Linked DNA regions of Homo sapiens. The protein of the gene in region 1 purifies or fractionates together with the protein of each later gene. This does not show direct contact. Each region holds a gene or a part of one and is shown on either strand. Other genes may lie near its edges.

The links. The genes of interacting proteins can lie anywhere in the genome.
Region 2: the proteins of LRRC55 (region 1) and TAP2 purify together in Homo sapiens (affinity purification with mass spectrometry; one large-scale study listed by BioGRID and IntAct). This does not show direct contact.
Region 3: the proteins of LRRC55 (region 1) and CLCN7 purify together in Homo sapiens (affinity purification with mass spectrometry; one large-scale study listed by BioGRID and IntAct). This does not show direct contact.
Region 4: the proteins of LRRC55 (region 1) and SLC22A23 purify together in Homo sapiens (affinity purification with mass spectrometry; one large-scale study listed by BioGRID and IntAct). This does not show direct contact.

Annotation. Positions count from the first base shown.
Region 1 is NC_000011.10:57,180,490-57,184,752, reverse strand, and holds the start of LRRC55 (leucine-rich repeat-containing protein 55 precursor), read right to left. Parts: upstream 2,801-4,263; 5' UTR 2,731-2,800; coding exon 2,070-2,730; intron 1-2,069.
Region 2 is NC_000006.12:32,828,740-32,832,239, forward strand, and holds part of TAP2 (antigen peptide transporter 2), read right to left. Parts: intron 2,068-3,500; coding exon 1,879-2,067; intron 1,702-1,878; coding exon 1,528-1,701; intron 1,351-1,527; coding exon 1,191-1,350; intron 798-1,190; coding exon 661-797; intron 296-660; coding exon 167-295; 3' UTR 1-166. UniProt on the Homo sapiens protein: ABC transporter associated with antigen processing. In complex with TAP1 mediates unidirectional translocation of peptide antigens from cytosol to endoplasmic reticulum (ER) for loading onto MHC class I (MHCI) molecules.
Region 3 is NC_000016.10:1,461,529-1,465,028, reverse strand, and holds part of CLCN7 (H(+)/Cl(-) exchange transporter 7), read left to right. Parts: intron 1-3,354; coding exon 3,355-3,426; intron 3,427-3,500. UniProt on the Homo sapiens protein: Slowly voltage-gated channel mediating the exchange of chloride ions against protons. Functions as antiporter and contributes to the acidification of the lysosome lumen and may be involved in maintaining lysosomal pH.
Region 4 is NC_000006.12:3,289,551-3,293,050, reverse strand, and holds part of SLC22A23 (solute carrier family 22 member 23), read left to right. Parts: intron 1-3,184; coding exon 3,185-3,287; intron 3,288-3,500.

The DNA.
Region 1 (4,263 bases):
AGGCACCAGTCCTAAAGTCATGCTGTATCCCAGGGGCTTGCTTATTATGGCCCTCTTTGTTCAATTTTTCCAAAAACCATGGATAACAGTGGAGTTCCGCAAAGAAAAAGGGAGGAAGCAGCTGAAAAGGACCTAAAGGGAAGAGCATCACCTAGTTCTGCCTCCACTGGCAAGGTTTTGTCCCTAAGGAGAAGCACCCTGGTGCGTGTGGCCTGGTGTTAAGTGTGTTCTGTGGAGGAACAGGGAACCTGGCTTTCCAGCTGGGACTGCTTGCTTCCTCATCATGGGCCTGTGGACAGTCACTGTCCCCTTCTGGAGCTCAGGTTCCTCACCTGTACTGATGTATGTGTGAGCCTACACTGATGAAATCTTGGACCCCTCTCCTGCTCGCTGGGAGTCTGAGCTTCTTCAGAGCAGCAGGGACCTCAGAGATCACAGAAAAGGAGTCCCTGGGTGTAATGTAAGCTTAGTGCTTTGGGTGCCCTTTCTGTTATTAGTGCACAGGAGAGAGAGGGAAGGCGCGCCTGCCAAGTTTGAGCAAGTTGAGAGATTGCTCCAGGCATCCTCCCACTCCTGCCCTCCACCATCGCCCCATCCCAGTCCCCAGCTATTTTGATGCAAGAGAATTTCCTCCTACAGCTCTGTGGAAACACTGGAATCGTGACCCACAGCCCTCCCCAAACTATTTTGGTCTTGGGCTCCCCACTCAGTCCTCCTCTCCCTTTTACCACATTCAGCATTGCTTCTTCTCAACATGGGCTGAGCTCAGGTTCTGGGAAAGCCCCTTGGATAGGGCCTTCAGCTACTACTTCTGGGTTCTTGTGCCAAGTCTTGGTGTTGTCACACAGGAGAGCTGGTGGCTAGGGCCACAGCTGAACATTGCCTGCCTCTGGGTCAGGCTCAGATGCCACTGGGTTGGGATGCCCATCAAACCTATGTGATTTGGGCTTCTTCAGGCCCCAGTCCACCCTCCAGTTGGGATTGGCTGGTTGAGTTGCCGCATCTCAGTCTTCCTTTCAGCTCCCTACCCTGTGCCCAAAGTTTACACTGCTCAGGGCCTTGAGTTTGAGGAAAGCCAGGTTCTCGTAGCTGAGATCCAGGTCTTGGAGCTGCATGAGGTCCTGGAACTCTACTGCAGCCCTTTGGCCAGTCCAGGACTCAGGTTCTGACTCTTCCGGCAGGCCAGAACCTGACTCTTCAGGATATAGTCAGGGAGATTGCCAGGACTCAAATCCTGGCTTCAACACTTAGCAGCTGTGTAACTTCCAACAAGCTACTGAACCTCTCTGTGCCTCAGCTTCCTCCTCTGTAGAGTGGCAATCTCATTAGTGTTCTTCTGGGGATAGGAAGAGATAGGTAAAGCTGCTTAAGAGAGGGCCTGGTAAATAGCAAGTACTAAGGTCTCAAGTTCCTCCTGGAACATATTGGCTGTCACGCAACTTAAGCTATTGCAGCTCTGTTGAGATTGTGTTAGTCATTACTATTTATACGAGAGTTTCCAACACTTGGAATGCTAAAAAAGCATTCTGGTAGATTAGAACAGGGCTTAGAAGTCAGATAAATCTAGGTTTTATTCATGGTCCTGCCACTTTTTAATTTTTTAATTTGTATTTTTTTCATGGCCCTGCCACTTTCTAAGTGTGTGATTCCTGTCAAGCCTTTTTATTGTTCTAAATCTCAGTTTCTTCACCTGGAAAATGGGTATAATAAAAATGGGGGTCTCATGAGATAATGGATGCCAAGATCTTAGGTCATGGTGAAAGCTCAATAAAAACCACCAACCATAGGCTATTCTCACTTGTCTACTATCCGTCTGCCTCATTAGGTCATGAGCAGCGCAGTGGTGAGGGACATCTATTTAATGAATGAATGGGCCCTCGGTGCCTCACATGCACTGGAAGGATTCTACAAACAACCTGTTGGCCGAGCTGGTGTACAAAGAGGCAAGCCCACATTAGAAAATGCAGTAGGTGCTTTCTGGCTCTAAGTTCCCCCGCTTTCTTTGGAGCCTTTGCTTCCCATTGAGGCAAGCCCTCCCTGTTGACTGCCCCGTTCTGCCCCTCTATTACCTGCTGTACAGCGCTGGATCCGGTTTCGCAGCCACTTCAGCAGGGGTTCCATGGTGCAGCCACACACCCAGGGATTGCCACCGATCTGCAGGGTCACCAGCCCCGGTAGGCCCTCAAGAGCCTCCAGGCTGAGGAAGGCCAGGCCCCCATAACTGAGGTCCAGGTCTCGGAGCTGCATGAGGCCCTGAAAGGCCTGGGGATGCACCCTCCGCAGCCAGGGGTTGTGGCTCAGGTCGATGTGGACTAGCCCATGGGCCTCCTGGAACATGTCGGCTGGCACATGGCTGAAATTGTTGTAGCTCAGGTCCAAGTGTGCCAAGCGCTTGGCATGGAGGAAGAGGCCCCGGGGCAGCTCCATTAAGGAGTTGTTGTGCAAATCCAGCACCTGGAGCTCCATGTAGCATGTGAGGTAGCCAGGCGGCACTGCTGTGATGCGGTTGTGGGCCAGGCTGAGGTTTCGGGTGTCCATTGGCAGGTCTGGGGGCACGGAGAATAGCCGCTGGCTGCTACAATCCACCACCTGGTTACGGCATGTGCAAAGGACGGGGCAGCTGGTGCCGGCATCCGAGTGCATCAACCCGGCTGCCAAGAGGAGGGAGATCAGCAGCATTGCTGGGTGGGGTGGCCCGGGCCAGGGAAGCTGGGCCCAAGTGTCACCCATCTTAGGCAGCAGGCAACAGCAGTGCTGGAGGGAGCCCATGAGGACTGTGTCCATGGAATCGAGAGTCTGTGACACAGGAAGGCAGCTACATCTGGGGCCAGCGTCTGTGAAGGTGGGGCTTCTGAGCATGTGGTATCATGGCTAGGGACTTTCCCAGGAGCCTCTGAGCACCAGAGGGCTTCCTGAGATCCACGGGAGGTCCCCTTCCGGAGCCTAGGGGGCAAGACACCCAGTTGAGGTCCCCTAGGGTCTGGAATGATGATCAAAACCTGAGAAAGGGAGGGGACAAGAATGGGGCTAGGTCAGCTGCCAGCAAGTCCTGGAAGAGTTCCTGCAGATCTTTTGTGTCTCTCTCACCCATGCCTGCTGGATGTTTCCTCTTGGTGCTGTGTCTGGGAGGGAGGGGCTGAAGGAGATGAAACGTGCCCTTTAAAGATCCTTGGCACTTCTTCTGAGAAAACTTAAGTCCTGTCCCACGTCTGGGACTGATTAGGAAGCCGGGGCTGCACCTGGGTCTTCAGTGTTGAAGGTCTCAGAGGCCATTTGTCCTGGTGGCCTGGTGGGCTGGAGTCCAAGGGGGTCCCAGGGTGGGTGTTTTGGGAAAAGGGCCCGGGAGGAAGTGAGTCTCCATGGGCCTCCTAAAAGCCTGAGAGTCCTCAGCCTCAGTGGCTGCTGGAATCCCCAGGAAGCCTCTTTTTTTCCCAAAGAGAGGAGGACCCCAGGTGATGCCCACTGTCTGGGCCTCTGGGGCCAGAAGAAGTCATGAGTCCTGAAGGTGCAGGCTGAGTGTCAGCTGGCAGAGCTCTGGCATCTTCTCCAAGCCAGTGCCTTCCTCAGCGCAGTTCTGTGTTCAGCAGGTGGAGGCCAAATTCCCTCTGTCAACAAGGAAAGCACTCAGGCAGAGAAATCCTGTGCCCTTGACACTCCCTTGTCCCTTCACCTAGGACGCTTGGCTTATCTTTGTCTCTTTCCTTTGCTCCCCCAACCACAAAGTTCTCTGCTTACTGTCTGTCAGGTGTGGGCCATGGTAGGTTCAGACCCCAGGCTCACATTGCTGTTACCCACGAGCCCTCCCTGACCCAACCTGCAGCCATCCTCCTCTGGGTTCCTGTCTTGGGTTAGATGCATTTTCTTCTTCTTCTCATAACCCCACCCTCATTAGTACCAAACACGCCACCCTTGAACAACTCCCTAAGAAAAATCTGCATCCACACTCTGGGGGTTTGCACACCCCTTTCAAACACTCTAAGCACTCCTCTCTCTCTCACACGCACACACACACACTCACTCACACACCATTCTGTGACTCCCCCGTATTTTGCCCTGCCCCGTGCTCACGCCTCGCGGTTTTCGCTCCAGCTTCCTTCTGCACAGGCGATTCTGCAGACCCCTCCCCAGTCGACCCCCAGCATCTTTCGCCCCCCTCTCAGCGCACACCCTTCATCCCAGCATCCCTTTCCACACACTGCACTCTCCTCGCCGCCCCCAGCAGAGGGACCGAGAGTGATGCCACGCCCAGAGCCTCAGCCCTCG
Region 2 (3,500 bases), on another chromosome or scaffold:
GTGCCTGCAACTCAGGAACAGCTATCTGGCCGCACAGCTCTAGGGAAACTCAAAGCAGGAACAGCTCTGGGTCCTGGAGACGCCCCTGAGAAGAGGGCCCAGTATCCCTGGGGCCTCAGTCCATCAGCCGCTGCTGCACCAGGCGGGAATAGAGGTCCTGTCCCTCCTAGAGCTGGGCAAGCTTCTGCAGCTTGCCCTCCTGGAGCACCAGGATCTGGTGGGCGCGCTGAACTGTCTGCAGCCTGTGAGCAATCACCAGCACTGTGCGATCCCCACGGGAATTCCAGTCCTGCAGCTGAAGGGGTGATCACAGTGCCTCAGAAAGACAGGAATGAGATGGACACCACATCCACCTGGGCACCATCTCTTATGATTTAGGGTAAAGAAGGTGTGAAATAAAAGAAGGTAGGAAAGGGCAGTAGATAAAGGCCTGGACTGCCCTTCTCTCCCGGCTGTACTGCCACAGCTGGAGGAATGGAAGCCCAGGAGGGAACTGGGGCTGCCCTCACACCACCGGATTCCATTCCCCAACCCCAAGAAGGCACAGACTGTTTCCACTAGTAGGTCCTTCGTCCTCCCTCTGCCCAATTCTGCACAGTCTGATCCTCCCAGCATGCCCCTCCCAGGCCCCACTGTCCCCTGCCCTCTCACGGTACTCACGGCCTGCTCGCACTGCACATCTAGGGCACTAGTAGCCTCATCCAGGATGAGGACCCGCGGGTCTCGTACAAGGGCCCGGGCAATGGCCAGACGTTGTTTCTGTCCCGCAGCCAGCTGGCTTCCCTTCTCCCCTACATCTGAGGAAATCAGAGAAATTCCCTTCCTCAGATACAAGTGACACAGACAACACACAAGGAGGGACAAGTGCACAGCAGGTACTTCCAGTAGGACCTCGGGAGGTGGGAGGGCCCAGTGCGGGGAGGGCCCAGTGGGAGGAGGGCCATGGGGTGGGGACCTGACGGGGCTGCCCACGGAGGGAGCACCACTGCTGCATTGCTCTCTGCAAACAAAGACTCTTGATCAAGAGGGAGGCTGAAGAATTCAGTGTGTGGGGAAGGAGACGTAGGAATGGAGGAAAGGGCAGAGGAACAGCAAACATCAAGCTACAGGGACACGACCTTCACCACTAAGAGTAAGTCTGATTTTCTCTTTTTTACTGAAGGAGCAAGCTTACAATTTGTAGAAGATACCTGTGTATATTCCATGCTCCATTTCCTGGATGAAGTCATCTGCGTGGGCAGCCTGGGCAGCCGCCATCACCTTATCATCTTCGCAGCTCTGCAGCCCATAAGCAATGTTGTTCCTCACAGAACCGGAGAACAGCACAGGCTCCTGCCCAACTGAAACCACCTGTGCAGCAGGGACAGGGGCAGAGGACTATGTGTAAACCCCCAAGGCAGGGGCCCTTTTGTCCTCCCCACCTACCTCCCTCAGAATGAACACCTGGTGCGCCTTCCCGTGGATCTCCCATCCTCTCTCTGTACATGCTCCCCTCTCCTGTCCCCTGTCTTCTCCCTCCTCACCCACCTGGCTGTGCAGGTAGCAGTGTTCATACTGTGAGATGGGCTTTTCATCCAGCAGCACCTGTCCCCCTGTGGGCTGGTACAGATTCTGCAGCAGGGCAGCCACTGTGCTCTTCCCAGACCCATTGGGTCCCACCAGCGCCGTCACCTCACCAGGACGTAGGGTAAACGTCAGCCCCTAGAAAACCAGAAAAAGAGTTAAGGGCCTGCCCCTTCTCCCTCAAAATCCCTCCATTTCTCTTCTTAGCAGAGGCAAGACCAGGTTCTCAGAGGCAAATGAACTATAGGCTGTGATGTCCAATTATGCATTAGCAGCAGAGAGCAAGGGTCCAGGTTTCCTCCCTCTTTCAGGCACCTTGAGCACAGGCCTGTCAGGGCGATTGGGATATGCAAAGGAGACGTCTTGGAATTTCACAACCCCCTGCAGAGTGGTGGGGGCAAGCGTGCCAGGTGAAGGCAGATTTGGCTGTCGGTCCATGTAGGAGAAAACCTTCTCTGCAGCTCCCACGTTGCTGAGCATATCCCCATATATGTATACCAGGGTCTGGAAAACAGGAATGGGAGAGCCGGCTAATTAAACACACTTCTACCAGAAACCACCCTCCCAACTCCTCACACACTCCACTCACAACTGCACTGCTCCTCCTCCATACTCAAAAGAGATTCTCCACTTTTAAATGTACAATTTGGACGGAATTTAAAAGTGGCACCAATACCCCAGTGTTCCAATTTGCAATATAAAGGATATACAGTCCCTTCTCCTACCATACAGCATTGCCTCTAGCCCCAGATCTTTTCAGTTACTGCTTCCTATTACTTGTGCCCAGTTCTGTCTTGCTTGATTAGACGGGGAGCTCCTTAAATGCAGGCACTGTGCCCAACTCACCTTTGTAGCCGTCAGAGTGCCCAGCGCAGTTCTCTACACAAAAAAGATGTTTATCAAGTGTCTAGGAAAATGTTTAAATAAAGCCCTGGATGAAGTAGCTGTTTTTGAGAACTGGTAAATGTAGGAAGAGATCTAAATGCTCACTCTGCCTTTCCTCATCAAACTGTACCACCGGGTAATGAAATGGTAGATGAGGGGAAGTCTCCCTTCATAGACTACTTCAGCTAATACATGAAGAATGATAGAGTATCTCCCTTTTGCAGCCCTAATTCTGTCATGGATGTAGGTACTGCTCATCAGTGGCTGATGTTGCCACAAATAGAGAACCAGACATTGTGTGCCTCTTGGAGGAAGAATGCATCACCACCTAAAAAGTACTGTTGCTGGAAAAAGACCAAAAAAAACCCCTCAATCTCACAAGCTTCTAGGTTTATCTATCAATAGACAGGAAGTACAGAGGCAGAAGAGCATATAATACCACAGGGATTCAGTCAACAAAATCCAGACCCTAAGAAACTCCACAGGACAAACAACCTATTTCTTCAACAAATAAACTGTGCAAGGGAAACTTTTAGACAGATACATGGATTGATGGGTGGATGGATGGATAGATGGATGGATAGATAGATAGACAGACAGACTTAAAAGATGTATCAACCAGTCACAATATGTGGACCATTTCTGGATCCTGATTTAAGCAAAGTATAATAAACACACTCATACACATATACTACATGGATACCACAAGTGGAAATTTGACAATTGACTATTTGATAAATTTTAAGAACTACTGTTAATTTTTTGGTGTGATAATGGCTTTGTTGTTATACACTTTTAAAGATGTTTGTATTTTTAAGAAACATACTGAAATATTTACAGATGAAAGTATACAATATCTTGGATTTGCTTCAGAATAATATGGGTGGGGGGAAGTGGCTGGGGATACAGATCCAACAAGATTGGGCATGAGTTGATCATTGTTAAAGCACAGGATGTATACATGTGAGTTTGTAATATTATTTTGTCTCATTTTTGGCATATGTTTAAAATTCTCCATAGCAAAATTACTTGCGGGTTTTGGTTTTGTATTG
Region 3 (3,500 bases), on another chromosome or scaffold:
ATGGGCAGCGAGGGGGCTGGACCTGGCTTTGGGACAGGGCAAGGACAGGGATCTTGGGGGGGCAGTGAGGAGCCCCAGGAGAGTGAGAGGGGGCCGGATGCCTCTGACTTCAGAGGGCAGGGGTTTAGATGTTCCCGTGCCAGTGGCTGCCCTGGGAGTCCTGAGCTCAGCGGCAGCGTGCTCGTCTTCCTTCCCCTCGGGGGCATCTCCCGCCGGCCTCGGTTTTTCCCCCAGCCGCTGGTGAGGCCGGGAGTCCTCTGCTGCCGCTGGCCGTTCACTCATCGTCTCTGGGTAGATGTCTGTGCGGGACTCCTGTTGAGATGATCCTGATGTTGGCAACACCCCGGGCGTCCTCCTTCTCCCCATCAGGCCCCACCTGGCTCTGCCCTGGGCCACGTCAGAGGCTGAGGCATCTCACAGTCCACCTGTCCGGGTGCTCTTCGGCCTTGCGTCCGTTTGAGCTCTGCCGCAGTCGCTCCCGAGGCCGGCGCCGTGCTCAGATGCCGTCCTGTACAGCCAGCAGCGCCTCTTCCGGGGCTGCCCTTCTGATACGTTTGTGCTGCCTCTGGAGCCACAAGGCCTTCGGAAGATCTGTTTCGTGGCCGTGGGCGCCTTCGGCACTGCCTTTTTGGACTTCAAAGCCTTTGCTCTGGTGTCAGCTTTGGGAGGGGCAGGAGTTGGGAGAGAAGGGAAAAAGCCAGCACGTGAGATTCAGCAATCAGTCCTCTCCTGTCTCAACCCTGGAGCGGGTGCCTGGCCGGCCACACGCGTGTTGGTTATGCTCATTTTTAAACTGGGTTTGTTGTCTTTATAATTGAGCTGCAGGAGTTCTTTATACATAGATGCAAATCTCTCATCCAATACATGATTTATAGAAGTTTTCTCCCGTTCAGTGGGTTTTCTGTTCACTTTCTCAGTGGTGTCTTTTGTTGCTCAAATTTATTTAATTAAAAAAGTTTTGGCCAAGGGAGGTGATTCGTGCCTGTAATCCTAGTACTTTGGGAAGCAGATGGATTCATTGAGCTCAGGAGTTCAAGATCAGCCTGATCAACATGGTGAAACCCTGTCTCTACAAAAAATATAAATATTAGCTGGGCCTGGTGATAGGCACCAGTAGTCCCAGCTACTTGGGAGGCTGAGGTTGGAGGATCACTTGAGCCCAGGAGGTGGAGGTTTCAGTGAGCTGAGATGGTGCCACTGCACTTCAGCCTGGGTGACAGAGTGAGATCCTGCCTCAAATTTTTTTTTTTTTTTCTGGGCAGGTGTGGTGGTTCACACCTGTAATCCCAACACTTTGGGAAACCAAGGCTGCAGCCCAGGATTTGGAGATCAGCCTAGACAACACAGTGAGACCCTGTCTCTACAAAAAACAAAAACAAAAACGAAAATTAGCCAGGTGTGGTGGTGTGCGCCTGTGGTCCCAGCTACTCAGGACGCTGAGGCAGGTGGATTGATCGAACCCAGGAGGTTGAGGCTGCAGTGAGCCATGATCACACCATTGTACTTCAGCCTGCGTGACAGACGGGACCCTGTCTAAAAAAATTAATTATTACTATTCTTTGAGATGAGGTCTCACTGTGTGGCCCAGGCTGAACTCCATCTCTCAGGCTCAAGCAATCCTCCCGTTTCAGCTTCTTCCTGAGGAGCTGGGACCACAGGTGCATCACACCCCGCACAGGTTGTATTGCTGAGGTTCAGCTAATCTGTTTTTTCTTGTGTTGCTTGTACTTTTGGTGTCAAATCTAAGAAACCATTGCCTCACCCAAGAGTATGACGACTGACCCGTTTTTTCCTAAGAATTTTACAGTTTTAGGTCTTTCATCCCTTTTGAGTTAATTTTTGGATGTGGTGTGAGGTAAGGGTCCAACGTCATACCCTCCCTCTCTCTCTCTCTTTTTTTGAGACAGGGTCTCACTGTCACCCAGGCTGGAGTGCAGTGGTGCAATCATGGTTCACTGCAGCCTCTGCCTCCTGTCTGTCTCCCAAGTAGCTGGGACTCAGGCGCATGTCACCATACTCAGCTAATATTTTGTAGAGATGGAGTCTTACTATGTTGCCCAGGCTGATCACAAACTCCTGGCCTCAAGCAGTCCTTCTGCCTCTGCCTCCCAGAGTGCTGGGATTATAGCTGTCAGCCATTGCGCCCGGCCCAGCTTCATTTTTGCATGTGGAAATCCAGTTGTACCAGCACCATTTGTTGAAAACACTACCTTTCTCTGTTGAAATGTTTTGACACTGTTGTGGGAAATCAATTGATCGTACATGTTTTGGATTTCTTTCTGGACTCTCTCAATTCTCTTCCATTCTTTTGTGGCCATCTTCATGCCAGTACCATGCCTGGTTTTTTTTTTTTTTTTTTTTTTGGCTTTTTTTTAAGAGTTGGGGTCTCACTGTGTTGCCCAGGCTGGGTGGATCACTTGAGGCCAAGAGTTTGAGACCAGCCTGGCCAACATGGTGAAACCCCGTCTCTACTAAAGATACAAAAATTAGCCAGGCGTGGTGGTGCACACCTGTAATCCCAGCTACTTGGGAGGCTGAGGCAGGAGAATGGCTTTAACCTGGAAGGCGGAGGTTGCAGTGAGTTGAGATCGCGTCACTGCACTCTAGCCTGGGCAAAAAGAGTGACTGTATCTCAAAAAAAAAAAAAAAAAAAAAAAAAAAAAGACAGATGAGGGTTTTACTCTGTTGCCCAGGCTGGTCTTGAACTCCTGGCTTCAGTTGATCCTCTTGCCTCTGCCTCCCAGAGTGCTGGGATTACAGGTGTGAGCCACCGCACCCGGCCTCATGGATTGATTTTTGGATGTTAAACTAACTTGTATTCCTAGGCTGAATTCACCTTGCTCCTGGCATTGCTGGAATCACTTTGCTTGTGTCTTACCAAAGATCTTTGCATCCGTGGTTGTAGGGGTGTTGGTCTGTAGTTCTCTTTTTTTTTTTTTTCTTTGAGACGGAGTCTTGCTCTGTCACCCAGGCTGGAGTGCAACGGCGCAATCTCGGCTCACTGCAACCTCTGCATCCCGGGTTCAAGCGATTCTCCTGCCTCAGCCTCCTGAGTAGCTGGGATTACAGGCGCCCACCACCACGCCCAGCTAATTTTTGTATTTTTAGTAGCGACAGGGTTTCATCTTGTTGTCCAGGCTGGTCTCGAACTCCTGACCGCAGCTGGTCCACTTGCCTCGGCCTCCCAAAGTGCTGGGATTGTAGGTGTCAGCCACCGCGCCCCATGTGCAGTTCTCTTGCTGTGTCCTTGTCCTTGGTGTCGGGATGATAATGGCCTCGTGTGTGAGCTGAGAGGGGCCTCTCTCCTTGTGGCCTTGTCAACTGTGCTTCTCTCTTTGCCTTTTTCTGCCACAGGATATGGACCCTCCACATCCCTTCCCCAAGGAGATCCCACACAACGAGAAGCTCCTGTCCCTCAAGTATGAGGTGGGCGTCCTTCTGTCCCCCTGACCCTGAGACCCGGCCTCTGCCCCCTGCCAGCCCACTCCCGGTCCCCTGTG
Region 4 (3,500 bases), on another chromosome or scaffold:
TGGCCACTGCGTCCTCTGCTGTCCTCGGAGGCCTGGTTTACCTCTCACACCAGATGGCCAAATGTGGAGAGGCCGTGCCCTCCTCCCAGCGGGTCAGCAGGGTCATCAGGGCCTCCTTTCCCTCCCTCTGTTGGTGAAGAGAAGCTGGGAGATGTTGGGCTCACTGAGCACGGGGCGGGAAGACACGTGCTCCCCGAGTGCTCCCAGAGGCCGCGCCGAGTTCTCCCATCCGGCCCTCAAGGCAGCGCTTCATCCTACTTCACAGACGAGCAGCTGGGCTCAGAGCAAGGACAGCGTAGCTTTTCCAAGGAGAGCGTAGCTTTGCCGGAAGTGCAGAAGCTGGGTTCCTGCCCAGGCTCATCGGGCCCCTCACAGCACCCAGACCTCAGCCCCGACCACACGGGGATCCGTGAAAATGTGGAGGCACAGGGGCTGCAGGATGGCCTTGGACATACCTGGCTCATCAAAATTCAGTCGGCTCGACGTGGGTTTTGGTTGGAAAATTTTCTGATGGCTCTAAGTCAAGCAGGCTGATGTGTCCTCCTCCTCCTCTGTCTCGAGGAGAGCATGGGAGCTGGGTGCTCGCAGCAGCAAATCCTAGATGCCAGTGTCCCACAACCTGGCCGGGCTCCCTGTTGCCCATTCATTTCCATGTGTGAGGAGTTTAGAGAAGTCTCTAGATGTCCATCTGATACCTGGACAGACAAAAAGGCCTCTTGGATTCAGCTACCATTGAGGGTGTTAGAACCATCTGAAGTGTCCTATAACATAGAGCGCTGCCTTGAGGGCCGGATGGGAGAACTCGGCACGGCCTCCAGAAGCACTCGAGGATTTGAGGCCCAGAAGAACAGATATAATGCTGCGGAAGCTTCATGCTGTTGTTGACAGGCTGGTGATGTGAGTAACTGGTAGTAAGATAAGCACAAAGTCATTGGACAGTGACTCTGCCAGACATGGGAGGAAGCGCTTCATGTGCTTCCTGAAAACATATCAATAGCCCTGGAAAGGTTAATCTAATTCCACTTAGAAGAATTCAGTTACCTCTGCAGACTACAGTCAATTTTTTAGACTGGGTTCTAGGTTTAATTTTATTTAAAAAGCTCAGGTCATAATGCAGTTGTTATTGCTTCTTTAACATCATACTTAGTAAACAATAACATATCAGGAGTTCAGTTTGGGGTATATACTTTTTAAAACTTTAAACTTATATGGACTTGCTAATGGACATTGAAATTTTCTTCTCGGAAGTCTTCCATGGTGAGAAAACGTAGCTATTACAGTTGGTTTCTGATGAGTTCTATAATAGCAAAGATATTCAGATCATTGGATCCAAGGTTTTCTGTTAACCATGATATTTTCAAGCTCTTTATAAAATTAGTTATTTTAACCATGGAGAAACTGTGCCTGTAGTCAAAGTAGCCCATTTTTGCTGAGGAAAAATAATGGACCTTGGGAGCTGAGAGGGTCCGTGGACCAGCAGCTGAAACGCCGGCCCTGTGGGCTTACACACAGACCTCAATCTTTGCACCCAAGTATGGCAAGGGAGAAAGTTCTGGAAACTCAGTAGACATGAGCTCCCTCAGACAAGTGAAAGGTTTCTCCTTCTCCCTTCTGTGCCCTGGCTGGTGACACTCAGTTCAAAAACAATGTTTGAATAAAAACATCATTGCTTTATTCAAATCCCTACGGTTTAGCAACACATTTTTTCTTCAAACTATAATGAAAGAGCTTTGTGACCCTCCTACCGCTGGATGGCAGGAAGGAGGTGGAAGAGGAGGGTTGAACTTGAGCCATCCAGGGTTCAGAGTGGCCCTCGGAAGCACAGGGCCAGGGTCCTGGAGACACAGCCCCCGAGGGAGCAGAAGGATCCCTCTAGAGGCAACGACAGACCTCCCAGTACTCGACTTCCCAGATTGCGAATGTCTGATACTGTCGTGGTACTGTTGTCGAAACTAAAAGAGTGACATTGGAACACTACCATTCACCAAACCCCAGCCTTTATTTGGTGCCTCCCATCATCGTGCTTTCCATGACGACTCCTCCCACCCGGGATGCCGCCCAGGACTGCGTCTTGTCCTCCCCTCTCCCTAGTCTCCTGGTCTGACAGCTGCTCAGTCTTTCTTGTTTCTGGTGACCTTGACAGTCTTGAAGAGTCCTGGTTCCCCTCCGCTTCGGGAAGTCTCCCTTTTCTTTTTTAGCTCCCCAGTAGGGGATTACTCCATGAAGACATGCCAGGCTAGGAAGGCAGAGAGGCAACAGAAGGCTGAGGTGGCATTCCTGCTCCCAGACGTGCAAGCAGACAGCTCCTGGAGGCCAGCACCCCCACCATTCTGAATCTTCCCTGTAAATTGCCAGATCAACACCAGCACCTCTGCAGACCCCTTGGCCTGGTGAATGTAACACTGTGCGCTGGTGGACTCCCTTCAGAGGGGCTTTCAGAGCCGCTGGAGCCGCACAAGAAACTCAGTCTCATGACTTTATAGTTGCTCACATCCCTTGGAGCCAAAATATTGTCCAGCCCCCAAGGACTTCTGTTAACTAAAACATGCACACGTATATGCATGCGTATGAATGTGTGCATGTATGGTGTATACACATACACGCAGATGTGTTCACTTATGTATTTGGCTTTCAAAGATGCATATGATGTCCTAAGGGCAGTTTCAGCAGAAGTAGCTACAGCCATAGTTCCACCCCACAAGGCTAAGAAGCATATCTGCATGTGGCCTTCCCAGTCTCCGAGCCGGGGGTGACACAGGCAGATGTAGAGTGTACGGAAAAGAACTGCATGTTTAGATTTGCCCAGGGCCTAATGAGTGCCTCAGTAACCTAGAATATCATCGCTGAGCTCTGTACTCAGACAAAAGTGAACTGAGTCGAGACCGTTTGTGTGCACTCTGACTGGTTCCAAAACAAGGGTTTGTGATGGAAACTTCTGCTGACGGTGCACCTTGGTGCCCTCTCAGGCACCCGAGCGAAACCTGAACTGCAAAGCTGGGGTCTTATGAGTGCCTTTCTATCCTGGAAACCTAGACCCTATCCACTGGCAAAAAAAAAAAAAAAAAAAAAGCTTCTCTCTCCCTTCTGTGGTACCCGAACTGGGGAACCAGGGCTGTGACTGCAGCTGCTGTCCTGTCCTCTGTGGGCGGCCTGCCCAGGGCTCACAGGGTCTGTTTCTTTGCAGAGCTGGAGAAAGAGCTTTCCCGGAGGCCCAAGAAGGTCTGCATCGTGAAGGTGGTGGGGACACGGAACCTGTGGAAGAACATTGTGGTCCTGTGTGTGAACTCGTGAGTCACAGAGGACAAGTGCCAGCTGGGTGGGAGGGGGCCAGGGAAGAAGGTGGGGAGTGGTGAAGCCCAGGGCCCTGCTCCCCACCCCGCTGAACTTGGAATCCTAAGGGTGTGTGTGTGAAGAGTGACACGGGCTAGAAGATATTGACCTCCCCCGCTCCCGGAAGCCTCAAGCAGCCGGTGCCCCCCAGCCCAGGCGTGTAAATCCTG